Homo sapiens: one gene and its partners. The protein of the gene in region 5 purifies or fractionates together with the protein of the main gene of each other region. This does not show direct contact. Each region holds a gene or a part of one and is shown on either strand. Other genes may lie near its edges. The genes, in order: ERC1, H3-7, XPC, DHX9, MACROD1, EIF2AK2 and HTATIP2.

Region 1 (4,336 bases), on a different chromosome or scaffold from region 5:
GAGTGCGTCTCATGGGATCTGATAGTTTTATAAATTGGAGTTCCCCTGCACAAGTTCTCTTGCCTGTCGCCATGTAAGACATAATTTTGCTCCTCATTCGCCTTCTGCCATGATTGTGAGGTCTCCCCAGCCATGTGGAACTGAGAGTCCATTAAACCTCTTTCCTGGCAGGGTGCAGTGGCTTACATCTGTAATTCCAGCAATTTGGGAGACCAAGGCGGGTGGATCACCTGACATCAAGAGTTCGAGACCAGCCTGACCAACACGGCAAAACCCAATCTCACTAAAAGTACAAAAATTAACCAAGCATGGTGGCAGGTGCCTGTAATCCCAGCCACTCAGGAGGCTGAGGCATAAGAAGCTTGAACCCAGGCGGCAGACATTGCAGTGAGCCGAGATCGCGCCACTGCACTCCAGCCTGGGTGACAAGAGCGAGACTCCGTCTCAAAAAAAAAAAAAAAAAAAAACTTTCCTTTTTAAATTACCTAGTCTCGGGTATGTCTGTATTAGCAACATGAGAACAGACTAATACAGTGAGGAAATGAAAAATCACTCAATAAATGAAGTTTAAATACTTGTTGCTCTTTGAGAAACATAACGTATACTCGTCTTCACATAGTACACCAAAATAAATTCCATATACATTAAAGATATAAATTTTTTAAGCCATTAAAAGTACTAGAAGAAAATTTTGAAGAATATCCTTGTGAACTTGAGTTAGGAAAAGGCTTCTTAAATAAAAAACCAGAAGCAAAAACCATAAAGAAAAACAACCAACACACTTAATTATGTCAAAATGACAAAGTATTATACCAAAAAATGCTGTAAATAAAATTAAAAGATAAACCAAAAGCTAGGTGAAAAATACAGTGAACATAAGTATAATGATCTGTAAACAGAGTATGTAAAGAATTCCTACACGGGAAATGCCAATTTTGAAACAGCGATAATTAGAGGGAAGGAAACTTGTGTTATAAAGGGGAAAAATGTTTGTGGAGGCTTTAGCTCAACTTAGAAAGCTTTACACTCAAACTACCATAAAGCACCTGAATTTTTTTTTCAAAAAAGAAAACATGTTCATACTCTACAAGTATAACTAAAACAAATTTTAAAACCACAGGCAGTTGTCCCTTGGTATCTGCTGGGGACTGGCTCCAGTAGAACGTATCCAGATATCCAAGACTGCCCCAGACAACAAAAATCCCAGGATGCTCAAGTCCCTGATTCAAAATGACACAGTAATTGCATAAAACCTATGGATATCCTCCAGCATACTTTAAATCATCTCTAAATTACTTATAATACTTAATAAAATGTAGATGCTATGTAAATCGTTGTTATACTTATTGTGTTTTTTATTTGTATTATTTTTCCATGTTGTATTATTTTTTCCCAAGTATTTTCTTTTTTTTTTTTTTTCCACTTTTTTTTTCAAGGTGACTTTAAGATTCTTTCCCAAATATTTTTGGTCCACAGGTGGTTTGAGCTGTGGATGCAGAACCCACTAAACTATAGCTATCAACTTTATAGACTTCTTTCAAAGACAATATAGATCTAAACTAGATCTCTCTGATTTCCTAGCATCATTTCAAAGCATTGGCTTAGGTCAAGTAACAACAGGCTTCAGCATATTAAACAATATTTTCCCAAAATCCATTGTTATGTAAATTGATTCTTATAAGTGTTTCTTCATTGAAAACAGTACCAAGTAAATCATATTGTCAAAAATGAGATTCTAAAGACAGTATCTATTCTGGTCAAACAGGTTAAAAGTCCTCAAAAATGTGAACACACAGGTGGTTTGAAATAACAGGCAGGTGGTTTCAAACCTGTGGGGGGAGCGGGGTGGAGAGGCGGGAGATGTTTTGTGTTTTTGTTTGTTGAGACAAGGTCTCCTCTGTCACCCAGGCTGGAGTGCAGTGGTACAATCACAGCTCACCGTGGCCTCAACCTCCCAGGCTCAAGCACTTCTCCCACCTCAGCCACCCGAGTAGCTGAGACTACAGGCGAGCATCAGCACACCCAGCTAATTTTTGTATTTTTGGTAGAGGTGGGGTTTCACCATGTTGCCCAGTCTGGTCTCGAACTCCTGGGCCCAACGGATTCGCCTGCCTCAGCCTCCCAAAGTACTGGGATTACAGGCGTGAGCCACCGTGCCCAGCTGATGGTACTTTCTTACAGCAGCCCTATCAAATTTACGTATCTCATCTCCTACATAAGAGAGAAACAAAGAAATCAAACAGGAACTATCTCAACTTTCTCTCTCCACATGTTCATTGACAGCAACAACCATCCTTAACTTCCTCTATTCTGATGGAAGTGGGCTACAGCTAATCCTTCCACAGGGTACTTTAGTCCCCATTCCCTCTGGCTTCTCCAGAGAAACCTTAGTTAATGAACACTTTTCCTCTCTAATGCCTTTTTAACTTCTGTCTATAATACATCTTGTTTCTTAAGCACTCCCAATTTTTTGACACTCTCCTCTCTTGGTTTCTTTATATCATATGCTCTTTTCTTCTAACCCTCCTCCTTCTTTGTTCGTTCCTCCCTTAAATGTTTCTGATCTTCATCCCTATGTTATTCTCACACTACAATATCATCCTTAAGAAATCCTTTCTCCCTGCCTCCACCAGCTTAAAATAACATATGTACAACAAAGACTCCAAATTCACTACTTCTCCAGTACTTTTTTACTTCTCCTTTGAGAATCAAAACTATGTATCCCACTTCTGGACATCTTCACTTATACTCCTCACATGCACCTCAAATACACCATGCCCCCAAACTGAACTCCGTATCAAGGTCTCCCCATTCCAAAACCAAACCTGCTGCTGCAGGGGAAAAAAAAAAAATCAAAAAAAGAACATGGTAGTGGACAACATCTATTCACATGAATAACATCAGCTGCTCAAGCCAGAGCCTGAGAGTCCTCCCAAAATCTTCATACTCCATATACACACATATTATCAAAACAATACAATTCCTGTTGCTTTGATTTCTAGGTACCTCTTAAATTGATCCTCTTCCTCCATTCCCACAATTATTACCTTGGTTTATGCCATCCTATCCTACCTGAATTAAAACAACTTTCTAACCTGACTGCCTGCCTCTAGCCTCAGAGTCCTGTATTAGTCCATTCTCAAGCTCTATGTAGAACTACCCATAAGACTGGGTAATTTATAAAAGAAAGAGGTTTAATTGACTCACAGTTCTGCAGGGCTGGGGAGGCCTCAAGAAGCTTACAATCATGGCAGAAGGGGAAGCAAACACATCCTTCTTCACATGGCGGCAGGAAGAAGTGCCAAGCAAAGGGGGAAGAGCCCCTTACAAAACCATCAGATCTAGGCTGGGCGCGGTGGCTAACGCCTGTAATCCCAACACTTTGGGAGGCCAAGGTCAGTGGATCACTTGAGGTCAGGAGTTCAAGACCAGCCTGGCCAACATGGTGAAACCCTATCTCTACTAAAAATACAAATATTACCCAGACGTGCTCACTTGAACCCAGGAGGCAAAGGTTTCAGTGACCCAAGATTATGCCACTGCACTCAAGCCTGGGTGACAGAGCAAGACTCTGTCTCAAAAAAGAAAAAATAAAATCGATCTCGTGAGCACTCACTATCAGAACAGCATGGGGTAACCGACCCCACGATTCAGCTACCACCAGGTCCCTCCACAACATGTAGGGATTATGGGAACTACAATTCAAGATGAGATTGCTGGGGACACAGCCAAACGGTAACAGTCCCCAGTCAGTGTTTTTCAAACTTAGAATTATGACCCAATAGTAGGTTGTGAAATCAGCTTGATAAGCTGCAACCAAGCTTGTTTTCTTGTTTGTTTTAAATGAAATAAAATCACTACATACCCTGAGCCAGAATCACCCAACACACTCTTCATGAAATCTGAGATGTTTGTTTTTCAAATCCAGTAAGTTCTGAAGTAATTGTAATGCAACAAGAGATAACAGTATTGTTTTCTGCAATGTTTCAGGTGTGCATATGCATGCACATGTGCATACTGGATCACAATATAAAATGTACTTCTTGGCCAGGCACAATAGCCTGTGCCTGTAATCCCAGCACTTTGGGAGACCAAGGAAGTAGGATTGCTTGAGTCCAGGAATTCAAGACCAGCCTGGACAACATAGCAAGATCCTATCTATAGGAGAATAGAGATAGGATCTCTAAAATAAACAGATAAATAGAACAGAAAATAAAATGTATAGCTTATTTTCACAGTGTATCACACTAAAGTAAACATAAGTAATGTTGAGAACTGTGAAGGAACTAGGATTTTATTTAACCCTACTTACAGGTTAATACATTAGCCTATGACC
Region 2 (3,198 bases), on a different chromosome or scaffold from region 5:
TGCCTCGTTTTTGCATTTTTATTCTATACTTTGTGGAAATTTTTTTCTCTTCCTTGAAATACTACCTCACCCACACATTTTTAAAAATCGCCAGATATTTACTCCCGCCCGCTTAAATTACTATTCTGGCTTGGACACCGCCTGTAGTATGCAATGAGGAAGATGCTGAGCTTTAATTAAGCTTATAGTTCCTAAATAAACCAGGAAACGAGTTTATAATTTTTAAGGGACTCGCCCCACCCTTACACTCAGGATCTTCCACATCTAGAAACTCCCCATAGTCTCTTGCCCCCATGCAAAACTTTACCCACAGAATTGGGAGCCGGACCTCTAGCCTTAAACCAGCGTGAAAAGGCTCGGCCGGAACCACAAGGACCATGCCTCTGCGGCTTTCTCTACTGCCGGCCAACTCACGGCTGGGCTTTGGGTTCTGTAACGTCACCCACCACGAGTGCCCCTGGCCCCTGACCGCTGCGCAAGGCAGACGCACATCAGATGGAGAGCCGGTACAGCTGCTCTTGATGAAAACGGCAGTGGCTCTGAAAAGAGCCTTTAGATCGACCACTTAAAAATATACCTTAGGCCCGCTCCCCGCGGATGCGGCTGACCAACTGGATGTCCTTGGGCATGATGGTCACGCGCTTGGCATGGATGGCGCACAGGTTCGTGTCTTCGAACAGCCCCACCAGGTAGGCCTCTCTGGCCTCCTGCAGCGCCATCACGGCCGAGCTCTGGAAGCGCAGGTCCGTCTTAAACTCCTGCGCGATCTCGCGTACCAGCCGCTGGAAGGGCAGCTTGCGGATCAGCAGCTCCGTAGACTTCTGATAGCGCCGGATCTCCCGCAGAGCCACGGTGCCGGGCCGGTAGCGGTGCGGCTTCTTCACCCCGCCCGTGGCCGGCGCGCTCTTGCGGGCCGCTTTGGTAGCCAGCTGCTTCCTCGGGGCCTTGCCGCCGGTCGACTTGCGGGCAGTCTGCTTAGTACGGGCCATGCTGTCTCATTGATACGAGAGGGTCTAGGCAGTCGTATTTATAGACATAGCCTCCTCTTGATTGGGCCTGAAAAGGAAATTTTCAAACTTGTGATCTCATTGGTTAAAATTCAGTCCTCTTTACTGGGGCGGAAGATTGTTCTGCTAATCTTTCTTCCCTTATTATTTCCCCCTTTCCTGATTTTTTTCTGTAATTTTATCGATCACGGATTGCTTTTGAAGACTTTCCTTTAAATTAGTCTAACTTTTGTAAAAGCAATGTATAAAGTGTTTTGCATCCCATTTTAACAGAGATTTTTTTTTTTCCCCGAATTCAAGCATGCCCTTCTATGAGCTATCAGCCTGTTTCAGGTTACCTGTTACTGAAGCTCTTCTACCATAGCTAACATTTATTTCATGTCTAGCATTTTGCTCAGCAAGTTAGATGCATTGTATACCATGAATGACCGAAGCTTAGCAAAAAAATATGTAATTGAAGGAATGAAAAAATTGATCTTATTTACTTGACCTTGGAACCCAGCCAAAGCCATTTCATGTGGGTAGTGTGCTGACCTATATTGACCTGATATTAGAGCCTCTGCCTTCCTTTAGTCTTTTCTCCCTGCGATGTGGTTCCTTCTTCCTCACCCTCACATCAATGGCCAATTAGGTCCTGCAGATGTTAAGCTTCTAAATCAAAGAAGGACAACACCAGAAATTCATTTCTCCTTTACAATGTAGAATAGTTTGTAAATTAGTGCTAATTAGCCAGATTACAAGTTAAAGTTTCAAAGCAAATTATTCATCAATTGCTGACTTGCTAACATTTTATTCAATAAAGTATTTTATAATGCTTAAAAGTTTAATATTTTTTTCTGTTCTCTATGAAGAGAGTAAAGATGCTTTGCTTTTTCAATTTCATGTGCTTTGAAGTATGTATTGTTCAGAACAGTAAATATAGTGGTTATGTAGAAGCAACTGATACTTAAAAGTTGTAGTAGTTAATATAAAACTTTTAATCATATGCTTATTTTACTAAAAAAATCATTACAAACTATAAAAACTCAAACCTGAGAAAAGCAGGCCCGAAACGCTTAAAACTTACTTTGATGGTGTCATTATGAACTATCTTCCTACTGAAGTCAAAGTAAAGTAAAAGTGATTTCAAGGGGACTTCCTGAACACTAAACACAAAGTAGAAATCTGTGAGCTTAATTAATATCTTCAAGAGTCTCTCATGGGCAGAAGCATCCTCCTCTCGAGAGATCTAAAATGTACAAAAGTGTAACTGATGTGAACAAATGTTATCCCTCTCTGTGGTAGTTTTGTAATAATGCCTTACAGACAGCAGGCACTACTCAGTGTTTAAAGTTCTTCTACATACACTTTATCATTTAATCCCTACTCTGTGAAATAGATCTTACTCTTCTCACTTTACAGATAAGAAAACTGAGTCTCAGAGAAATTATGGCTTGTCCTGGGTAAGTAACAAAGCCTGTGTAATATTCTAAAGCAAAAGAATGAAACGGTAATGATGAAACTTTCTATTTCATTAGGCTTAGAGGATACCTTTTTTTTTTTTCATTTGAGATGGAGTCTCACTCTGTCACCCAGGCTGGAGTGCAGTGGTAGGATCTCTGCTCACTGCAGCCTCCGCCTCCTGTGTTCAAGCAATTCTCCTGTCTCAGCCTCCTGAGCAGCTGGGACTATAGGCGCAAGCCACCACCCCCAGCTAATTTATTTATTTATTTGTATTTTTAGTAGAGACAGGTTTTCACCATATTGGTCAGGCTGGTCTCGAACTCCTGACCTCAGGTGATCCACCCTCCTCGGCCTCCCAAAGTGCTTGGGTTACAGGCATGAGCCCCACACACCCAGCCAACACAGTTTAAAGCACAAAAGCGTTTTCCCATCATGCAATCACATCATCTAGTATTTCTCAAACATCTACACCCAACTATTCCCATTAGAAGGGAAAACTACCCCATGGAATCTGGATGATAGCCCAAAGCAGCCCACCCAAGCATCACTTTTCTTTGCAATATACTTTCTCTATGATGTATGCAGTCTTGACCATAATGTAGGATGTGTTCATTTAAATAAGAAAATGGCATTCAATCAGACTTTAATGGCTATAGGTATCATTTCTCAGAATAAAACAATCAGATGTATAGTTGCCTTAAAAGTCATCTTTAATAACAGAATTCAGATCAATTGTTAGTTCAATTTC
Region 3 (4,336 bases), on a different chromosome or scaffold from region 5:
GCTATTAACAAAACACAGAAAGTAACAAGTGTCAGTGAGGATGTGGAGAAAGTGGAGACCTTGTGGACTGTCGGTGAAAATGTAAAATGGGTGCAGCTGCGGTGGAAATGGTAAGGTGGTTCCTAAAAAAATGATGGGAATTACCATCTGGCCTAGTAATTGTACTGGGTATATGCAAACAAACAAACAAACAAACAAAAACTGAAAGCAGAATCTTGAAGAGCTATCTGCACACCCATGTTCACAGCAGCATAATTCACAACAGCCAAAAGGTGGAGACGAGCCAAGTGCCCATTGATGGATGAAGGCACAAACAAAATGTGGTCCACCCACACAATGGAGTATCAGCCTAAAAAGGAAGGAAATTCTGACCCATGCTACAATATGGATGAACCCTGAGGCATTATGCTAAGTGAAATAAGCCAGTCACGATGTGACTATAAATACCGCATGATTCCACCTACATGGGTCCCTATAGTAGGCACACTCAGAGACAGAAAGGAGAATGGTGGGTGCAGGGCTGGAGAAGGGGAATTCGGAGTTTTTGATGGGGACGGAGTTTTGGTTTGGGAAGAGGAAAAGAAATCTGGAGATGGATGGTGGTGATGGCTGGATGACAGTGTGAATGTGCTTAATGCTGTAGGCTGTACACTTAAAAAATGGTTGAGATGGTAAATTTTATAATATTTATAAATATTATAAATTTATTTATATATATAAATATATATAATTTATAAATATTATAAATTATTATAAAAAATTTATAAATATTTTACCACAATAAAAAATAAATCAATAAATATGCACCTCTAATGCTTCCTTCTGTCACTGACATGGTGCCTCTGGACGACGCCTGCATTCTCTTCCCAACAGGCTTTCTCCCGACTACCCGTACATACCCATAAGAGGAAGCCTCTATCAGGGCAGCCCAGGCCCCCTGCTGCCTTTGACTGCTGGGTGCTAAAGTCCCAGAACAGCAAAGCCCTGCCCCTGCCCAGGGCATCATGCCCCCCACCGACATCAAACAGAAAGCTCCAAGACAGGGCAGAGCCCTGAAGAGAGGGTCCAGCATGACTCCCATGGGGGGCTGACAAGCAGGAAGTCATCCCCAGTGGGAGGACTCAAATCGCCCACTCTCATGTGGGTTTCCCTACGCTTCCTTTTTCTCTTTTCTGTACCTTCCTGTTTTCTCATTTATTAAGAACATCTCCTATTTCTTGGTCTTGTACATCCCATGTCTTTTAAAATCACTTATTTTACTTGCTTTTTATTCCCATTTCTCAAAATTCCTGTTTCTATTTTTTTCTTACCTCAAAATTGTATTAACATTTTTCAATTTTAATTTTATATATATTTTATTCATTTTTTGCTCTTATTCCACTCTTTTTTTAGCTATTTCTTTTTACTGTGGTATAAAACACAGTCACATAAAATACACCATTTTAACCATTTTTTTGTTTTTGATACGGAGTCTCGTTCTGTCACCCAGGCTGGAGTGCAGTGGCGCGATCTTGGCTCACTGCAAGCTCCGCCTCCCGGGTTCACGCCATTCTCCTGCCTCAGCCTCTCCGAGTCGCTGGGACTACAGGCACCCGCCACCACACCCGGCTAATTTTTTGTATTTTTAGTAGAGACAGGGTTTCATCGTGTTAGCCAGGATGGTCTCGATCTCCTGACCTCGGGATCCGCCCGCCTCGGCCTCCCAAAGTGCTGGGATTACAAGCGTGAGCCACCGCGCCCGGCCCATTTTAACCATTTTTAAGTGTGCAGTTCAGTGGCATTAGGTCCATTCACAACATTGTACAACCATTACCACCATCCATTCCCAGAACTTTTTCATCCCAAACAGGGCTCTGTACCCATGAAAAATCCACTCACTTTTAACTTTCATAATCAAATCCTTTATTCCTTCCTTTTGTATGTTTTTGACTTATATTTGTGGGGTGTGTTTTATACTGCCCTATCTTAAATTTTATTTTTCCTACTTTGTATTTTATTTTCCCTGTAACTGTTTTTCCCCTGCCATTCTTTTAATCCCTGTTTTAATTTTCAAATTTTCTTCTCTCCTACACATCACACACACACAGCACACGCACACTGGCTCAGCCCGAGAATGCTGTCCAGTCAGATGAGCTCCCATCAGCAACCCTTGCCTAGGAAGAAGGCTGCTAATCCCATGCCATCAGGAAGCCCCTGAGGCCAACCAGGCTGCCTCACGCACCTGGAGTAGACCGCTTCTCCACGACAATACCCAAGGATGGCAGCTGTCTCGGGATAGATGGCCTCATATTTCAGGAGATGCCGCTTCAGGGCATACAGAGGGTGGTTCTTATATAAGCCAATGGCAGTGGGCAAAGGCTGGTCCATGTGTTTAGCCTGAAACTGCAAAGGCCAGACAGACAAGGTTGAGCATGTTATTTAGAAGAGGAAATGAAGTTTGAGGGAGATGATCCTTAGACTAACTTGTTCTGACAACAGATGGTGGAGCCAAGGTTTCATGAACACTAATGGTTTTGTAACATCGCATCTGTACCTCCGGCCAGTAAGTCAGTTACAGATCAATCAAAAGCTTTAAAGAATCAAATAAATCTGTGGCTTGTGGCAACTTCAAAAAGTTGTCTAACCTATTTGAATGCTTAGACACCTAACCCAGCCCCAGCAGATGTGTTAAAGGTCTGCAAGGAAGAAAAACACACAGTGCTCTTCAGTAAGAAGGTCTTATTTCAAAGGGACAATCCTCTTCTAGAGCGTGAGCTTACCTGTCTGCTCTCACAGGAAACTGAGAGCAGCGGTTCTCACCCTGCGACTTTTCTCTTCGTCCACTATGACAGTGTTCTCTCTGCCCTTCTCTGAGATTGCTCATTTCTCAGTAGGCAATTCACTGCTGTAAGTCACCCTGTTCACTAGGCTCTCTAAGGCTTGCCCTTGGCATCTCTTCAAAAACCCCAACAGACTAGAAAGGACTGGCAATGTGGAGTTGCTGAGAGTGGGAGAGGACGCTGCACGTTCAGCTTCCACTGCGCTTTAGGTAGGTTAGTTACGATACCATCTGCATACTTTCCACTTAACCTGTCATTACTAAGTAAAATGAACTTAGTAATGCACCCATTTTACTTAGCATTACTAAGTAAAATGCACCCCTGGAGCAAACACTCAATATGGGATGCATTGCACTCCTATAGGAAATGATTAATAAATCTGCAATTTACCTATCCTGAGGGATTGGAAATAAACCTGCGACAAATCTGGGCATGTTCCTGTGTAGAAATGGCAAGCTCCACCCACCACCACCACTGCCATACACACAGGCGGCTCGGGCACTATTCCTGGTGTCAGTGCTGGTTCTAGGATCAAGTGACATAGCTGTCATGTTCTAGAAGTCTCTGCCTCCCGGTCTGCCTTCTCAATAGACTGAAGATACTGTCTCATTCCGAGACAGTATCATGTCTGTCTCATTCCGAGACCCCTCTTTCCCAGGAGGTGAGTGTTCTATGTATGAGGGGTGTTTGCACGTACATCTTTACATTCACGCATGATGGGGGAGGGGGGAGAATATATCCATGGGTTATTCCTTCTTTCACTCAGTCTGAGTTATATTACTTGCATAAATTATTTTAAAGCTCCAAATTTATAACTGGGCAATAACTAAAAGTATACAGGCTCCAAAGCCACACAGACCTGGGCTCAAGCACCGCGGCAGTTCATCTTTCAACTCCACAACTTTTTACACTAAAATTAAGGCAGCAACTGCCCCAGCTTTATATGGCTGTGACAATTAAATGAGACAACCCATTAAAAACACCCAACATAGTGCTGGGCATATATAAGGTGCTCAAAAACAGGAATAATTTTAATAACCTGACTGTGTCTTGGAGCCCCTGGCAGCCAAGGCCTTACCTCCAAGTCTTCTTTCTTCTCCCTGTCCATAAATGGGCTCTGGTATGGTCTCAAGGTCTCGGCCCACCACTCAGCATCAACCCGGCACTTGCGGGTCACTGTCATCCAGACTGGGTCGTACCTCTGTGTGACATCTCGGACCCAGCCGTCACTGTCAATGCCCACCACATAGGTCATGGGCTTGGTGGCGTACTTGTAACAGGTCAGAGGCTGGCCCACCACACCGTGCACACAGTCTACACATACCCACTTTTCCTCCTGCTCACAGAACACCTCTAGCCACTGGTCTATACCAGCTATGCTTCTTTTTTCTGCCTTCTCACCATCGCTGCACATTTTCTTGCCTCTTTTACTGCTTGAAGAGCTTGAGGATGCCGCTGGCAAGCTTGGGTCCTTACGATGGCTCCCACGATGGGTCCTGGAGGCACTCTTGGACCCA
Region 4 (4,336 bases), on a different chromosome or scaffold from region 5:
TTTTTGAAAAAAACATTTTCATCACTAAGCCAATGGAAATGAGTAAGTTTTTATAGAGATGGAAGTTTGGTTTTTTTGTTTGTTTTTTTCTTGAGACAAAGTCTCGCTTAGTTGCCCAGGCTGGAGTACAGTGGCTCAGTCTCGGCTCACTGCACCCTCCGCCTCCTTGGTTCAAGCAATTCTCCTGCCTCAGCGTCCCAAGTAGGTGGGATTACAGGCACACCCCACCACACCTGGCTAATTTTTGTATTTTTAGTAGAGATGGGGTTTCACCATGTTGGCTAGGCTGGTCTCGAACTCCTCACCTCATGATCCTCAGCCTCCCAAAGTGCTGGGATTACAGGCGTGAGCCACCGCGCCCAGTCTATAGAGATGGAAGTTTTTTAAAGGATCAAGACAGTTGCTTCTAATGTGTTGGTAGACATTTGACTGAAGTGTGACTTTTCTAATGCAGATCTTGCAGGAGAGAGAGTTACTGCCTGTGAAGAAATTTGAAAGTGAGATTCTGGAAGCAATCAGCCAAAATTCAGTTGTCATTATTAGAGGGGCTACTGGATGTGGGAAAACCACACAGGTTCCCCAGTTCATTCTAGATGACTTTATCCAGAATGACCGAGCAGCAGAGTGTAACATCGTAGTAACTCAGGTAAGTGGTAAACCAACCATGAAATACCTAGAGAGCAGACTATTTCTGATTCTTTCTTTGATTAACTAATTTTTGTAATTATTTAAGATTGAGAGAGCATTGTGCCCTTGAAATTAAATTTAAAAAAAGAAAACATAAAAACAACGTAGTCTTTTTCTAATCTCTAGTATGCTACACTAATAAGCTAAACTGGACTATGTGAGGGATTCTTTTTATCTGGGCTAAAGAGTCTCTGGGCCTAGAATCAGACTGTCGAGATTAAGAATTCTTTGTCCTAAAGTTCATCCAAATCTTGGTCATCTCTATCTAACCACCTTGATATTGAGTAAAAACCAGTCAGACAGGTAATGGTTAACTTTCACTGTATGCCATGTTCTATTCTAAGCAGTAGCTTTTTAGAAAAAACTCAATCGAAGTTCATAATGACCCTAAGATGTAAGTACTATTTCACATAGTATTTCTCTTTCAGTAAATTAAGGCATAAAGAAGGTAAAATGCCCAAGGTTAACACAGAAAGTGGTAGAACTAGGATTAAAAAACCAAGCAATCCGCCTTTTAGGATTCTTCCTTTTAACTAACACTGTATTACCTTACCAGCAATGAGCAGCGCCTGCATGTTTGTCCCAGTACTTAGGGAAGAACTGATTAGCTCTTCTAAGTGCTCTCAGGTTAAACAGTTCCGTTGGCTCTACCCTGTACTTCTGGCACTTTGTGGGAGAGCATTGCAAATAGCCAGGTACTACCTCTGAGGTAGGCTTACATCTTGACTTAGAAATTATTTTTTCCCCGATGGGTTAATGTTGCTTAACCTGGGAAACATAATCAGTTTTCAGAGGAGAGTTACAAACTTTGAAATGTGTGCATGTTCATTTACATTTGCATGTATAAAGCATATATCTGAAACTTTTTAACATTTCTGAAATTGAGATACATTTTTATAATTAGTATATTTGTATAATTGTATAATTAGTATAATTGTATATTTTATGTGAGAATTGGGTTTTCTCCTGAAAAAAAAAATTGCTGTGAAGGAATCATGTTGCATCCTAAGGCTGATGATACCTTAGGCTTGAAAAAATATGATAAATTGACATTTTTCTGGGAAAGGATTCCTAGCTTGTTCACAAAATTTTCTTTGATTTTCCGACTCACCCCTAAAACTGGCTATGGATTTTTTGACTTACAGTGAAGGCTGCAGCCCCAGATGTCATCATACTCCAATAAAATATTCTTACTCTTAATTCTTACCTCATCTTTCAGGAAGAACATTGTTCAAGAGTGCAATTTTACAGAAGAGAAGCCTTGAGCTCAGCTCTGCTCTGCTCTTCTCTTCCCTTCCTCTCCCTTCTACCACTATCCATTTCTAATCTCAAAAGCAGTTGTGGCATATAGCAGAAAGAAGCAGAATTTAACAAGCGAGCTGTGAAGACAGGAGTCTCAAGTTGTCTGCATGTCATAAATAGAGTAAAAATTCCTGCCCAAGTGAGAAGTGCTTTGTCTCACTGTCTTTTAAAATGTTCAGTGGCATGGAAATGTATTAGCAAACCTGTGTCTTCTGATTTGGGGTGAATTACTTATAACTCATATTGCATCTACATTCTGTGGCTTGCATGTTTTTGTCCTAGCGTTTGTCCCAAAATCAGTCTCATACCTCTTACCTGTAACAAGTCTTCAAAATTTTAAAAACCTATATTGTGTCCTAGTATGTACTTAGTTTGAAAGTCTCAACTAAACATTTATAGTTCAGCCATGAAGGTACAGTAAGTCTAAGATTTAAACACACTCAAATTCATCAGCACCTACCTGTAATATGAAAAGTAGGCCTGAGCATGCTGATTGGTTATTACAGAATACAGTTTTTTATTATTTTTGTTTTTAATATACTGTACTTCTTTTGGCACAGTCTGAGATAGCATTAGTTATTTTTGTAGTACTACCACTGTTGAATCATTTTTCCATTATCTTGCACTTGTAGCCATCTATAGGAAACCACATGAAGTCATCAGTTAAGTATTAGAAAGTTTTTTTATGTTCCTGATTTTAAGTGTATTATCTCAGTTCACAGAGCACAAGTTTAGAGTTATGGACTGGCGTATAACAGAATGAGTAGCTCAAACCATGACATCAGCCTTAGTGTAAATTCTCAACCAAACTCACTGAATTTTATCCTTCGGTCTATCCATACTCAAGCCACTTAAAACCTGTGGGCTGTATGCAGAAAATTTTAAGTAGGAAATAGTTGTCTTCTACCTTTAAAGTTATTTGAAAGAGATGAATTGTAATTGTAGGATGTAAATCAAGCATATTAATGTAATTTTATCAATCCTGTACTTACCCCATAGTACCATCATTTCAGGATAAGAACGGTTCTTTGTATAAAATAAATTCAGAACCTTAGAAGATAGAGATAGTGGAGCCTGATACATTTTGTAGTATCTAGTGCATTAGGAATCTTGACATTTTGTGGCAGCTTAGTCATGTTACTGTGTATATAACGCTTAGATGTGAAAAAGCAAAGTTGGGACCTTTTAGAACTTCAGTTTTGAAAGATGGAAGAAATTGCTGTAGTTCTGAGTAAATGGCAAGAGGTGTACATTAAAGGTATGGATTCTAGAATACTACAAAATAACAGTTTGGGAGAGATCTCCAACCTCTTATGGTATAGAAAGTGTTAGTTACCCAGTACCTGGTACATAGTAATTTCAGTGACTGCTTAGTACATATTATTAGAGCTACTTCAGTTAAAGCAGACAGAAGTGTGGGGAAGAGGTTAGCACTTGAAATTACCTACTACTATGGCTGGACTCCAGGCAAGAGTAGTAAAATTCTAAAGAGAAAATGAGATAAGCAGATGTATGCAATGAAAATTAAAAGCACATATCTGGAGGACAGTTGGAACTATTCTTCCAGCTTTCTGTTGGAAAAATATTATCCTTTGCTTTCATCACTGGTACTTTCTAACTAGTCTCACTTTTGTCGGTTATTGTTTTATTTTTAACATATTTAGTAATCCAAGTGTAACATAGTTAAAATAATAAAAAGTAAAATAATTGGAGAAAGGATTATATTGGGAGTAAAGGAAATTTGAAGTCTTAAGTCATTTATGTGTCCTTAGGCAAAATAACCTTTTTGAACTTGTGTTTTTAATCTACTAGAATGCAGCAGGAAAAGATTTTACTAGTATTCTGAAGCATAAATAAGGCATATTTGCTGCCATGGTTTTTACTGTTATATTACACAAATACGATTTCTAGATGTCTCTGTGTTCTTGGTTCTTATTTATATTTGAGTAATATAGAATATGTATATATTCCTTATAATAGAAGTGGCCGTGCAGGTATAGATAGAACTTGTTTTACCTATGAGCCTTGCCTTGTATTTATTCACTGTGGCAGAATATATAAAATAATTATTGAAGCACAGAAGATCAAGGGAAAAGTGATAGATTATTTAAGGGATAAGTAGAGCATCTTCATACGCTGTACAGTGGCATGCAGTCTGAGAAAGGTTTAAATAGTCATTGATACGCTCACGTTAGGCATTGTTTTCCCACACAAAATGCCTGTCCTGTGAATATTTCTAGTGAGCTAAGAATTAAGAATTAGAAGATTTTTTTTTTTTACTGCTTTTGGTGTACTACAAGAGTAATACATACACCTTGGGGAAATTTTAAGAATAGAATAATTTTTT
Region 5 (4,336 bases):
TGAGGCAGGTGGATCACGAGGTCAGGAGTTCGAGACCAGCCTGAACAACATGGTGAAACCCTGTCTCTACTAAAAATACAAAAATTAGCCGGTGTGGTGGCACAGGCCTGTAATCCCAGCTACTCAGGAGGCTGAGGCAAGAGAATCGCTTGAACCCAGAAGGCGGAGGTTGCAGCGAGCCGAGATTGCACCAGTGCACTCCAGCCTGGGTGACAGAGCGAGTCTCCGTCTCAGAAAAAAAAAAAAAAAAAAATACAAAAATTAGCCGGTGTAGTGGCACACACCTGTAATCCCAGCTACTCAAGAGGCTGAGGTGGGAGGATTGCTGGAGTCTGGGTGGCGGAGGCTGCAGTGAGCCAAGATACCACCACTGCACTCCAGCCTGGGCAACAAAGTGAGACCCTGTCTCAAATAAATAAACAAACAGGCCAGGCACGGTGGCTCACTCCTGTAATCCCAGCACTTCAGGAGGCCAAGGCGGGCGGATCACCTGAGGTCAGGAGTTTGAGACCAGCCTGACCAACATGGAGAAACCCCGTCTCTACTAAAAATACAAAATTAGCCGGGCATGGGGGCGCATGCCTGTAATCCCAGCTACGCGGGAGGCTGAGGCAGGATAATTGCCTGAACCCAGGAGGCAGAGGTTGTGGTGAGCCGAGATTGCGCCACTGCACTCCAGCCTGGGCAACAAGAGCGAAACTCGGTCTCAAAAAAAATTAAAAAAACAAATAAATAAAAATAAATTAGAGAAAGTAACCCCTGGCTAGTAAAATCAGACACTGCTGAAGTGTCCCCAAAAGACTGAAAGTCTCCCAGCCAGGAAGATCCAGCCTGAAGGTATGTACATACCTAGAGGGAGAATGGGCCCATGGAAATGAGCGTCAGCCTGGAGGTAAAGAAAAGGAGTGTCCAGGGGGAAGCTGAATTTGGCCGTCAGCTTGGAGGACAAGCTGGGCCATGGGCTGGGCATCCTTCCATGGGTCCAGAGCAGGCACTCAGCACTGCATATAGATGGAAATACCGAGCAAACGCCCGGGGAAGGGGATCCTTGTGGGTGGGCTGACCCTTCTCAAACAGGGAAGCTTACCTGCCTTGCCCAGGGCAAGGCTTCCAAAATCACTCAACCAGCCCTGGATAAGATCGCATGCTCTGAGCAATCCTAAGATTACAATTTGGCTTCCATGAGGCTTTCCCATAGGGAGAGGAGGCTCTGCTCAGGCACACCTGAGTTTTCAGACCCACTGCCATTATATTTCCCCACCACAAACTGCACATATGCCTTCTGACCTATACGTCAGTCTCTTGTGAGTTTGGTTACTGTGTGCCAGGCTTTGAGAGAGGATCCTCTCAGGCAGACAAGTATTTGGAGGCCTATCTAGGTACAGCCCTGAAATGAGAGCACATGTCCATCAGAGACATGGAGAGAATGTTCAGGAAGCCAGGCACAGTGGCACACATCTGTAATCTCAGCGCTAGCACTTTTGCAGGCGGAGGTGGGAGGATCACTTGAGCCCAGGAGTTCGAGACCAGCCTGGGGCAACATAATGAGACCCTGTCTCTGCAAGACATTTTTAAAAACATTAGCCAGGCATGGTGGCACATGCCTATAGTCCCAGCTACTCAGGAGGCTGAGGTGGGAGGATGGTTTGAGCCCAGAAGTTGGAGGCTGCAGTGAGCTGTGATTGCACCACTGCACTCCAGCCTGGGCAACAGAATGAGACCATATCTAAAAAAAAAAAAAAAAAAAATGTTCAGCACAGTTTTATTCACAAGAAACCCAAATGCCTATCAACAAAAGAGTGGGGGCCGGGATGGTGGCTCACACTTGTAATCCCAGCACTTTGGGAGGCCGAGACAGGTAGACCACCTGAGGTCAGTATTTTGAGACCAGCCTGGCCAACATGGTGAAACTCCGTCTCTACTAAAATACAAAAATTAGCCAGGCGTGGTGGCGGGTGCCTGTAATCCCAGCAACTCTGGAGGCTGAGGCAGGAGAATCGCTTGAACCCAAGAAACGGAGGTTGCAGTTAGCCAGGATCGTGCCACTACACTCCAGCCTGGGCGACAGAGCAAGACTCCATCTCAAAAAACAAAACCAAACAAAACAACAAAAGAGTGGGAAACAAGCTGTGGTACGTTCATATGCTGGAACACTATACAGCAATGAAAAAGAGGGAACCATTGCCACATCCAATAACAAGGACGAACTGGCCGGATATTGAGTAAAAGGGGCCAGACTTCAAGAAGAGACAAAATGAACAGATATCACAAGAGTGATTAGCTCCAGACAGTACCAAGTGAAAAGAGGCGACTTCTGGCGTGATGGCAATGCTCTACCTTTTGACCCAAGTAGTGACTGCACAGTTGCATACACTGTGCACTGAAGATCTCTACACTTGCAGCACTTGACTGTCAAATGTAACTTGGCTGAAAGTGTGATTTGAATGTAACGATGAAAAGTGTAGCAGTCTTCAAGGGCCACGGCTCAGACCCTAATCAAAGGCAGAGTCCAGCTGGGGCAGCCCCCCAGATCTCCCATAATGTGATGGCTTAAAAAATACACTTGGCCAGGCACAGTGGCTCACACCTGTCATGCCAGCATTTTGGGAGGCTGCGGTGGGCGGATTGCTTGAGGCCAGGAGTTTGAGACCAGCCTGGGTAACATGGTGAAACCCAGTCTCTACAATAAAGGTTTTAAAACATTAGCAGCCCATGGCTCACACCTGTAACCTCAGCACTTTGGGAGGCCGAGGTGGGTAGATCGCTTGAGCTTAGGAGTTTGAGACCAGCCTGGGCAACATGGTGAAACCCAGTCTCTACAATAAAGGTTTTAAAACATTAGCAGCCCATGGCTCACACCTGTAACCTCAGCACTTTGGGAGGCCGAGGTGGGTAGATCGCTTGAGCTTAGGAGTTTGAGACCAGCCTGGGCAACATGGTGAAACCCAGTCTCTACAATAAAGGTTTTAAAACATTAGCAGCCCATGGCTCACACCTGTAACCTCAGCACTTTGGGAGGCCGAGGTGGGTAGATCGCTTGAGCTTAGGAGTTTGAGAACAGCCTGGGCAACATGTCAAAATTCTGTCTCTACAAAAAAATACAAAAAATTAGCTAGGCGTGGTGGCGTATGCCTGTAGTTCCAGCTACTTGGGAGACTGAGGTGGGAGGATCGCTTGAGCCCAGGAGGTTGAGGAAGCAGTGAGCTGAGATCTCACAACTGCACTCCAGCGTGGGCAACAGACCTTGTCTCAAAAGAAAAAAAAAAATTAGTTGCACATGGTGATGCGCGCCTGTACTTCCAACTACTCAGGTGGCTGAGGCAGGAGGATCGCTGAGCCCAGCAGTTTAAGGGTGCAGCTAGCTATGATTACACCACTGCACTTCAGCCTGAGCAACTGAGCGAGACCCTGTCTCGAAAAAAATTTAAATTAATTTTAAAAATTTTGGCCGGCCACAGTGGCTCACGACTGTAATCCCAGCACTTTGGGAGGCTGAGGCGGGCAGATCACGAGGTCAGGAGATTGAGACCATCCTGGCTAACACAGTGAAACCCTGTCTCTACTAAAGAATACAAAAAATTATCTGGGCATGGTGACGGGCACCTGTAATCCCAGCTATTCGGGAGGCTGAGGCAGGAGAATGGCATGAACCCAGGAGGAGGAGCTTGCAATGAACCAAGGTCGCGCCACTGCACTCCAGCCTGGGTGACAGAGCAAGACTCCATCTCAAAAAAAAAAAATTTAAGAAAATTGGCCAGGCCCAGTGACTCACGCCTGTAACCCCAGCACTCCGGGAGGCCGAGACGGGCAGATCACGAGGTCCGGAGATCAAGACCATCCTGACTAACACGATGAAATCCTATCTCCACCAAAAACACAAAAAAATTAGCCGGGCGTGATGGCACGCGTCTGTAATCCCAGCTACTGGGGAGGCTGAGGCAGGAAAATCACTTGAACCCCGGAGGCGGAGGTTGCAGTGAGCTGAGATCACACCACTGCACTCCAGCCTGGGCAACAGAATAAGTCTTCATCTAAAAAACAAACAAACAAACAAACAAACAAACAAAAATTAGCCGGGTATAGTGGTGGGTGCCTGTAATCCCAGCTACTCAGGAGGCTGAGGCAGGAGAATCACTTGAACCCGGGAAGCAGAGGTTGCAGTGACATCACACCACTGCACTCCAGCCTGGACAAAAAGAGTGAAACTGTCTCAAAAAAAAATTTTTTTAAGAAAATAAAAACACACCTTCAAATTCTTTGAGATTCTTTCTTTCAAGAGGTAGAGCCTAATTTCCCTCTCCTGGAGTATGGCCAGACTCCCTGACTCGATTCTGAC
Region 6 (3,972 bases), on a different chromosome or scaffold from region 5:
GTCTCAAAAAAAAAAATTATATATATATATGTATGTATATATATATATATATAGAGAGAGAGAGAGAGAGAGAGCTATTAATAAAACAGAGGAGTACATTTTACCCTTGCAATTCCAGTCAATACTGTGGTGTCATTTCAGCCAACATACCAACATTCAGTCAAATCCCAAAGCCAAATGGATAATTTCAGATGGAATGGAGTTAGACAGGAACTGGCTTCCCTTTCTCCTGTTACTATGAGGACAACCCACACCTGCTCAGTGGCCTAAAATATTTTAAATATGTTCATGACAATTATGCTGAGAATGCCAGGATAACACTGATGGAACCCATGACTTCACCAGGATTGTGGTCTACATTTACAGGCCTAGTACTAGAACTAGACCGGCTTAGAGAGTGGGAGATATCCCTCTGTTGTCCATCGAAAGATAAAAATACAGGCTTTCAGCCGGGTGCAGTGGTGCATGCCTTTGGTCCCAGCTACTCAGGGGGCTGAGATGGGGAATCCTTTGAGCCCAGAAGTTTGAAACCAGCCTGGGCAACATAGTGAGAGACCTCCATCTTAAGGGAATAAAAAAAAAATCAGACTTTCAATATGAGTAACAAGTTATTTTTAGGCCTTTTATGACTTTATAAATAGGCAATAATGAACACCAAGGGAAGCAAAACACTGAAAAGAATTTTAAAATTTGTTGTAGAACATTAATACGAAATTTGAAACTGCAAAACAATGTAAAATTTAATGTCATGTTGTCATTTACTTTTGTGTATATTGTGCCATGTTTATTTTCAAAGTCCTATCTAGAAATTCTAAAATGTCTAATTTTCTTAATTAAAAATCCAGAATTCTGTAGTTTCTGAAATTCAAAATAAATACTTTAACATACCAAATTGGTTTTTCTAATAAACATTTATTTCAAGTGTTATTTGTTAAACATTTAATTGTTGAGATTTGAAAATGAACATTATTATTTATTAGACACATTTTATAGGCTCATTCAAAATTCTTAACTTTTGAGTTCCTGCTTTCTTCACAGCAGTGCACTCACTACTTTCTGGTATACAAGAAGAACAGCTTGTCCCCACTCTTACAGTGTAATGAAATTAGCAGTATAATGAAGAAAAGTGCTGTGTAGGAATGACTGAGCTCTAAGACAAACTGGTAAGAACAATTAGGTACTAAACAATGGGAGTACTAGGGAGAAGATTCATTTTGAGTGGGAGATGTTGGAACACTTTGGAAATAACACTGAATTTGGGTTCTGAAAGATGGATATAATTTTGATATGCAAAGTTATGAGGAAAGAGTTACTGTATAATCCAGCCATTCTCCTAGGAATATACATCCAAGAGAAATGAAAACAAGTCCACATAAGATTTGTACACAAAAGTTCATAGTAGCATTATTCATGGTAGCCAAAAAGTACAAACAACCCAAATGTCCATCAGCTGATGAATGGATACATAAAATGCGACATATCCATATGATAGAATATTATTTGGCAATAAAAAGGAATGAGATGCTGATTCATGCCACAGCTGGGATGCACCTTGAAAATATACTCAGTGAAAAAGACCACATGTATGATTCCATTTATATGAAATGTCTAGCATGGGCAAATCTATAGAGATGGAGAGTAGATTAGTGGTTACCTAGAGTTGTGAGAAAACAGAGTGAATACTAACGGGCATAGGGTTTCTTTTGGGGGTGAGAAAAATGATAGTTGCACAACTCTGAATATAGTAAACACTACTGAATTGTATACTGTATAGGTGAATTGTATGGCATGTGAATTATATCTCAATAAAGCAGTTATTAAAAAAAAAATGAAGAGAATTTCAGATAGAAACCACAGGAGAGAGCCACTGAGTGCAAAAGCCTGTTGAGGTAAAACTGCAGACCTGCATGGGTGGGGCTTACTCGGGAAACACTGAATATGGGATGCATCATGGAAGCCTCCAGAGGAGCATGGCCTTGCCCAGTGAACTGCAGCCCAGTGAATCTCATTTTAGACTTCTGGCCTCCAGAACAGAAAGAGAATAAATGTGTGTTGTTTTAAACCACCAAGTTTGTGGTAATTTGTTAGTTATAGCAGCCATAAGAAATTAATACAGGTCCAAATCAAATTAACCCCATAAGAGCCACACAGATTTGAGAAGCATTTTATTTGCCTCACAGTTTTGCCTATTATACAGTTTCTAGTTATTTAGAATTTAAGCCAATAATGTCACCATATAACTATCAACTGTGATTCCCTTCATCTATGACTATTTTTAAGAAATGTAAGATTTGGATAAGTCATAATCACAGATCAGAAACTGCAGACATTGAGGCCTGGATGGCCGTTTAGAGAGAAAGAGTTAACATTTCAGTGGAGACCTTTCCTATCTTGTATTTCCTACAGTCTCCTCCTATCTTCAGTGCAGTGTTCTGGCAGCACCTCAAGCTCACTGTCACCAAATGGGATTCAACGTCTTTCCTCCCAAACATGCTCTACCTCACCATGTCGATAGATGTACAGTCGCCCCACTACTGGCTTAAATTCTAAATTACTGAAAACCATGTAACAGGTAAAAGTGTGAGACAAAGTACCCCTCAAATACATGTGGCTCTTGGGGTTCATCTGACTGAGACTTGTATTTACTTGAATGGCATCAGAATCCTGCTACTAACCTTCTAACAAACTTGGAGGTAATCTTTGATGCTTACCTTTCCTTAATCCCCACATCCAATTAGTTGCCAACTCCTCTTGGTTCTGTCCTCTTATTGTTCAGGCCCTCTTAGTCTTTCCACTTCTGACCTTTCAAATATAGTTTCCTCCTGCTCTATTCTAAACATGCTAGTTTCAAAGTATTGGTTGGGCCATACCTTGCTTTAAAGAAATACTCATTTGTCAACTGTGGAGGTTGCTAGGGCACTAACTCACTCTAAAATTTGATAAATATTTATCGCATCTTTCCCATTCAGATTTAGAGAAAGTTCCTTAAAGAAGAATCATAGATGATAAATGCAAGAGGTTTGATAGAACCAGAAAATCACTATTTTACAACCCCTGAAATGAAATAATGGATCCAGGCAACAATTATCAATAGCTGCTAAAACCATCAGGTGAAAGATTGATGAGAAACTTTGTAGTAGTTGGTACCACCAGAACTCATTGATCAATATTAAAATCACTGAAAGTGGAACAATCAGACATCATGTTCCTCCTGAAATGATGTAAGAGAAAGTGTATAGCATCACCTATGGAGTATTCTTGGGGGAAAATAAATGAACCAGGATCAAATCCAGCTTCTAGGTCTAACTGGACACTCTGGGGATACTCTCAGTCAAATCCTGAGTGGAGGAAATTCCACAGGACAAATAAAAGCCGAAAAGAACTAAAACGCAGGGGTAAATTTTACAGAGTAAAGGAGACACATCAACCAAATGCAATGTTGGATCTAGATTTCAACAACCAAGAAAACTGTATTTTTGAGATAGAAACAATACAGACTATTATATGATAATTAAGGAAATCTTGTCAATTTTTTGAGTGTGACAATGATGCTGTGGTTTTGTTAAAAAGATTTATCTGCTAGAGATACATTTTAAAGTACTTACAAGTGCAATGATGTAACACCTGAGATTTACTTTAAAATATTCCAGTAGGGCCGGATATTGTAATCCCAGCAGTTTGGAAGACCAAGGCAGGAGAATCTCTCAAGGCCAGGAGTTTGAGACCAGCCTGGGAAACACAGCAAGACCATATTTCTACAAAAAATTTAAAAATTAGTTGGGTGTGTTGGTGTATGCATGTAGTCCCAGCTATTCAAGCGGCTGAGGCAGGAGGATCACTTGAGCCTAGGAGTTCGAGGTTACAAGGAGCTGTGATCGTACCACTGTACTCTGGCCTGGGTGACAGAGTGAGATCCTGTCTCTTAAAAAAAAAATTACAATTAAATACTTCACCAAAAGAAACAAACAAAAA
Region 7 (4,336 bases), about 44 Mb from region 5:
CACACTAATCACATTAATGACATCATCCACTCAACAGAAAACAAGAACCTGGACTTCTGGAGCCTACTACGACCAGGTGAGGAAACAAATGAAAAGGTGAAACCACATCGAACCACCTTGAATTCACTAATCAAATCCCTCTTTTGATACAAATAAGGGGAAATGAACTATTCTCACTGGCATCTCTAAGTTTTTGTGCTTCACTCCAGGACAATACAGATCTGGTTTTCAAAGGCTATTTCAATCTTCACTAGCAAACAAGTTACTCACTAAAGCAAGGCAAAGGTTATCCAGGACCACAGTACCCAGAAAACCAGCAAGTGAGGGGAATTAATACACCCCAATGCCTCTTGAAAGTAGGTTCAACAAGAAGGACAGGGTTGACTGCATCAGGATCTCCCAAGGAGCCTGCTAAAAATACAGATTCCAAGCTTCCAAATTCAGAGATGCTGATGCAGTAGATCTGGATCAGGGCCAAGTCAGGGAGCCAGTGCATTGACTGAACAACTGTGTTCTGTGAATATGAAAAGGAAGATTAGCATCTGCCCAGCTACTGTTAAAGGAAATAGTCTTCCAAACAGCTGAGGAAAGCTAATAGACCTTTTCCTAGAACCAGTGTCAATAGAAACCTGAGTAGACTGAATTTTGTGGGTTGGATTACATCCCCCCAAAATGCGTATGTTGAACTCCTAACCCCCATTACCTCAGAATATGACCTTATTTGGAAATAAGTTCATTGCAGATGTAATTAGTTGAGATCATACTAAATAGGGTGGTCCCTAATCCAGTATGACTAGTGGTCTTATAAAAAGGGGAAATGTGGATATAGGCACAGGTATTCAGGGAAAATACCACGTAAAGAGACACAAAGAGAAGGCTGCCATCTACAAGACAAGGAGAGGGCCTGGAAACTCAAGGGCTCAGCCTCAGAGCACTGACCAGCCTGCTGAGACCTGGATCTCAGACTTCTAGCCTCCAGAACTGTGAGACAATACGTTTCTGTTGTTCAAGCTACTTGGGTTATGGCAGCCCTAGCAAACTAATACACTGAACATCACATGGAAATAAGCCACCTACACAGAGGATCTCAATACTGAGACAAAAACGCTGAATTTCTTGAAGTTTCTCTGCTGGAAACACAGACTGCTAAGGCAATATATGAGGTGTTCCAGTTACAAAATCCCTAGTGAAGCGTACTAGTTTTGCCACTAGCTTTGTAGTACTCATATGATAAACCACCCAACGAACTTTTTTCTACAGAGAGGGCTGCTGACCCAGAACACCAGCTGGGATAAGCTTGGAAATCCACAACCTCCACTTAAAACACTATCGTTACTTAGCCACATATGAACTGTCACCTCTTTCATATTGGCTAAAGTTATCAACCTCCCAACTTTATATTGTACACAGCCCAAATTAGTTTTTTTTTTAAAGCCCCCAAAACAAACAAAACACTTTTCTGGTATAAGTGTCAGCTTGCTTTCCACCACTAACCTCTTAAATCATTTAAGTCCTAATTCATTTCTAAGCTAGGTGAATAGTCTAGGCTCATTAGTCTATTCTTGCTTACTAGTTAATTACTTTTATCTTTCCAAATTGATTTTAAAGGAGAACAAAAGGTATTGAATAGCCTGAGACGTGAAGAACCAACCCCATTAAAAAAGAAAATTCTGGATAGTAAAGACACACAATTCCTCTGATTAAAATTGCATTACCCATTTTGAACACAAAAAGCAGTTTAGACTTTTCCCTGGCACACCCTATAATGAGATTTGCCTTATGTCATGAAAATCAACCCTTCTATGCCTAATGCAGCATTTTGTTTTGCTGACTCACCACCAAAACCAGGTTGGCACTTGAGACAAACCTGCAGTGTCCTGGAACAAAAGTTTTTCAATGCTTTTGGAGGGCACACCACTTGTGACTGTGCCTGGGACAGAAAAGACTGCACCCACTGTTAAGCAGGAACATGACCCTTTCTAGGAGAGATAATGTGCCAATTCCTGGGAAAGTCAAACTTCTCTATAATCCATAGTTCCCATCACAGAGCTCCAATCCCAGCTGTGTTCCAGGACAGATAGGCAGAACTGCAGAAGGTATGGAAATACATCTTGATTGAAAGCATACATAGAATTACTCTTTGCATCACAAGGAGGCCCAAAGAAATACATCTGAATCTAACTACTCGGTTGGTATAAATGAATAGTTCTTCACTATATGCTCCCTTAATGTTTCAGGTGAAGGGGTCTGGCTTATAAACCTAAGGAGAATTCCCATGGCAGAGTCATAGTCATATATATATATATTTTTTCTTTTTTCTTGTTTTCCTGGGATTACAGGCATGAACCACTGTGCCTCGGCTTTATTTATTTATTTACTTTTTTCACTTTCTTCTGTTTTATTTATGTATTTATTATTAAATATTTTTAAATTTTACTTTAAGTTCTGGGATACATATGCAGAACATGCAGGTTTTTTCAGCTCCAGCATGTAAATTCTGCCAGAGGAATAAACTATAGTCAAAGTATAAATTAAATAAGATGTACCCGCACTAACATTTGCCCAGAATCCAGGTAGTAAACTCTGATTTCTAACTATGTAGTAAACTATGACTTCTGTACAGGAGCTGACTCAATTTAGAACACCATTAAAAAGAAAATAAAATGTGCGTTAAAAGACTTTTGCGTCAGTAAAGACTGAATCATTAGTGGGGTTGAATCATCGCTGAAGGCTGAGTCATCGCTGGAGGCTGGTTGAATCGTGCCTGTGTTCTGATGTTCTATTCCAGAAGTTTAAAGCTTGACATGAAAATAAGTTGAAGCAAATCACTCAAGTGAGACAGAACATTTCAAATTTCAAACATTTATTAAGGGGAAAAACAGCTGATTGTTAACAGCATAAACCAATTAGTTTTACTCAGACATCATGGTTTCCCTTAGTCAGGGGATGTAGTGATAGCGATAATCACAATAGGCAAAATCATGTAAATATTTACGACGTCTCCAGCACTGGGGCCTGAACTCAAGGATTACTTTGAAAGACGAACTTATCAGTACTATTAAAAGGATACCAAAGGTTAGTGCAGCATATAGAATCTTAAACAATAAAGGCTTATTCACATTTAAGCATTGCAACAGGCACAAAGAAAAAGAGTGAGCAAGAAAAGAATCCTTGATATTACTGGCCAGCAAAAAGGGAAAAGAGCATATGCCTTCCTTACCGCCCCAGCTTTCCCTCTGGTGGTACCCAGGCAACAGAATCCAACATCATGACCTTGAAAGGCAGAGGCGTAGTCATCCAACTTTTCAAAGTCCACCACTTCTTGATTCTAGGCAAGGACACAGTTGTATGTAGTTTCATGTTATTTAAACAACAGACCAAAAACCCCCTCTAGATTTAAAGACTAAGTTACAGAACATTACTGACAGGCCTGTCCACTTAACATCAAATTTTACAAATTCCTTTTCTCCAACCAAAAAGCAATGAACCTCAGTTGAAAATCAACAACACACACATATGTCCACAGTCTATATAACTGGACTAGGGGTGATCCAGATTTCTGAAGTCAGGTTCGATTATAATCTCTCTCTGGAAAAATAAAAGACCTGTGTGTAGCTAACCAGGAAGGAGACCACTGAGGTATGATGTGAGGGCAAGAGATGGCGTTTGGCATCTTAAAGAAGACCTAGCTGCAAATCTTGGGCTTGCTACACTCACTAGGCATGTAGTTACGGGCAAATTATTCATCATACACTACAGCTTTTTTTTTTCAGCTGTAAAATGGGGGTGATAATCTTTCCTTCAGTCCAATCCATGAACCATTTGCATTATAATTAGTCAGGGAGTGCTTAATAAAAAGGCATATTCCTACATCCCACACCAATAGTTCTGAATCAGAATCTGCACTTTTAACAAGCACCCACCTTAATTCTCATGCACACAGAAGTTTACGAACCTCCATCTAACCTTATCAGTTTGCTGTATAACTTAAAAAAGAAAGCATGATAAATTCCTATCATCCAAGAACTCCGATAAAATGTTGGTTTCCATCCTTACTGTCAACTCTGAAAAGAATTTTTCTGGCACTGCCTATGACACTAAAGAAAAATAGGGTTTCACTGTTAATCCCAGCACTTTGGGAGGCTGAGGTGGGTGGATCACGAGGTCAGGAGATCGAGACCATCCTGGCTAACATGGTGAAACCCCGTCTCTACTAAAAATGCAAAAAAAAAATTAGCCGGTTGTGGTGGTAGGCACCTGTAGTTGCAGCTACTCGGGAGGCTGAGGCAGGAGAATGGCGTGAACCCAGGAAGCGGAGCTTGCAGTGAGCTGAGAT

Evidence for each region.
Region 1: the proteins of MACROD1 (region 5) and ERC1 purify together in Homo sapiens (affinity purification with mass spectrometry, with the first as the bait; one study listed by BioGRID). This does not show direct contact.
Region 2: the proteins of MACROD1 (region 5) and H3-7 purify together in Homo sapiens (affinity purification with mass spectrometry; 2 studies listed by BioGRID and IntAct, with this or other methods). This does not show direct contact.
Region 3: the proteins of MACROD1 (region 5) and XPC purify together in Homo sapiens (affinity purification with mass spectrometry; 2 studies listed by BioGRID and IntAct, with this or other methods). This does not show direct contact.
Region 4: the proteins of MACROD1 (region 5) and DHX9 purify together in Homo sapiens (affinity purification with mass spectrometry, with the first as the bait; one study listed by BioGRID). This does not show direct contact.
Region 6: the proteins of MACROD1 (region 5) and EIF2AK2 purify together in Homo sapiens (affinity purification with mass spectrometry, with the first as the bait; one study listed by BioGRID). This does not show direct contact.
Region 7: the proteins of MACROD1 (region 5) and HTATIP2 purify together in Homo sapiens (affinity purification with mass spectrometry; one large-scale study listed by BioGRID and IntAct). This does not show direct contact.

Annotation. Positions count from the first base shown.
Region 1 is NC_000012.12:1,021,926-1,026,261, reverse strand, and holds part of ERC1 (ELKS/Rab6-interacting/CAST family member 1), read right to left. Parts: intron 1-4,336. UniProt on the Homo sapiens protein: Regulatory subunit of the IKK complex. Probably recruits IkappaBalpha/NFKBIA to the complex. May be involved in the organization of the cytomatrix at the nerve terminals active zone (CAZ) which regulates neurotransmitter release.
Region 2 is NC_000001.11:143,904,978-143,908,175, forward strand, and holds H3-7 (histone H3-7), read right to left. Parts: upstream 1,001-3,198; 5' UTR 990-1,000; coding exon 579-989; 3' UTR 533-578; downstream 1-532. UniProt on the Homo sapiens protein: Core component of nucleosome. Nucleosomes wrap and compact DNA into chromatin, limiting DNA accessibility to the cellular machineries which require DNA as a template.
Region 3 is NC_000003.12:14,154,114-14,158,449, forward strand, and holds part of XPC (DNA repair protein complementing XP-C cells), read right to left. Parts: coding exon 3,898-4,336; intron 2,383-3,897; coding exon 2,222-2,382; intron 1-2,221. UniProt on the Homo sapiens protein: Involved in global genome nucleotide excision repair (GG-NER) by acting as damage sensing and DNA-binding factor component of the XPC complex. Has only a low DNA repair activity by itself which is stimulated by RAD23B and RAD23A.
Region 4 is NC_000001.11:182,859,539-182,863,874, forward strand, and holds part of DHX9 (ATP-dependent RNA helicase A), read left to right. Parts: intron 1-454; coding exon 455-646; intron 647-4,336. UniProt on the Homo sapiens protein: Multifunctional ATP-dependent nucleic acid helicase that unwinds DNA and RNA in a 3' to 5' direction and that plays important roles in many processes, such as DNA replication, transcriptional activation, post-transcriptional RNA regulation, mRNA translation and RNA-mediated gene silencing.
Region 5 is NC_000011.10:64,159,087-64,163,422, forward strand, and holds part of MACROD1 (ADP-ribose glycohydrolase MACROD1), read right to left. Parts: intron 1-4,336. UniProt on the Homo sapiens protein: Removes ADP-ribose from aspartate and glutamate residues in proteins bearing a single ADP-ribose moiety. Inactive towards proteins bearing poly-ADP-ribose.
Region 6 is NC_000002.12:37,098,318-37,102,289, forward strand, and holds the end of EIF2AK2 (interferon-induced, double-stranded RNA-activated protein kinase), read right to left. Parts: 3' UTR 893-3,972; downstream 1-892.
Region 7 is NC_000011.10:20,366,166-20,370,501, reverse strand, and holds part of HTATIP2 (protein HTATIP2), read right to left. Parts: intron 3,329-4,336; coding exon 3,221-3,328; coding exon of another isoform or gene 3,122-3,220; exon of another isoform or gene 2,847-3,121; intron 1-2,846. UniProt on the Homo sapiens protein: Represses translation by preventing reactivation of elongation factor eEF1A. May also inhibit nuclear import by competing with nuclear import substrates for binding to a subset of nuclear transport receptors.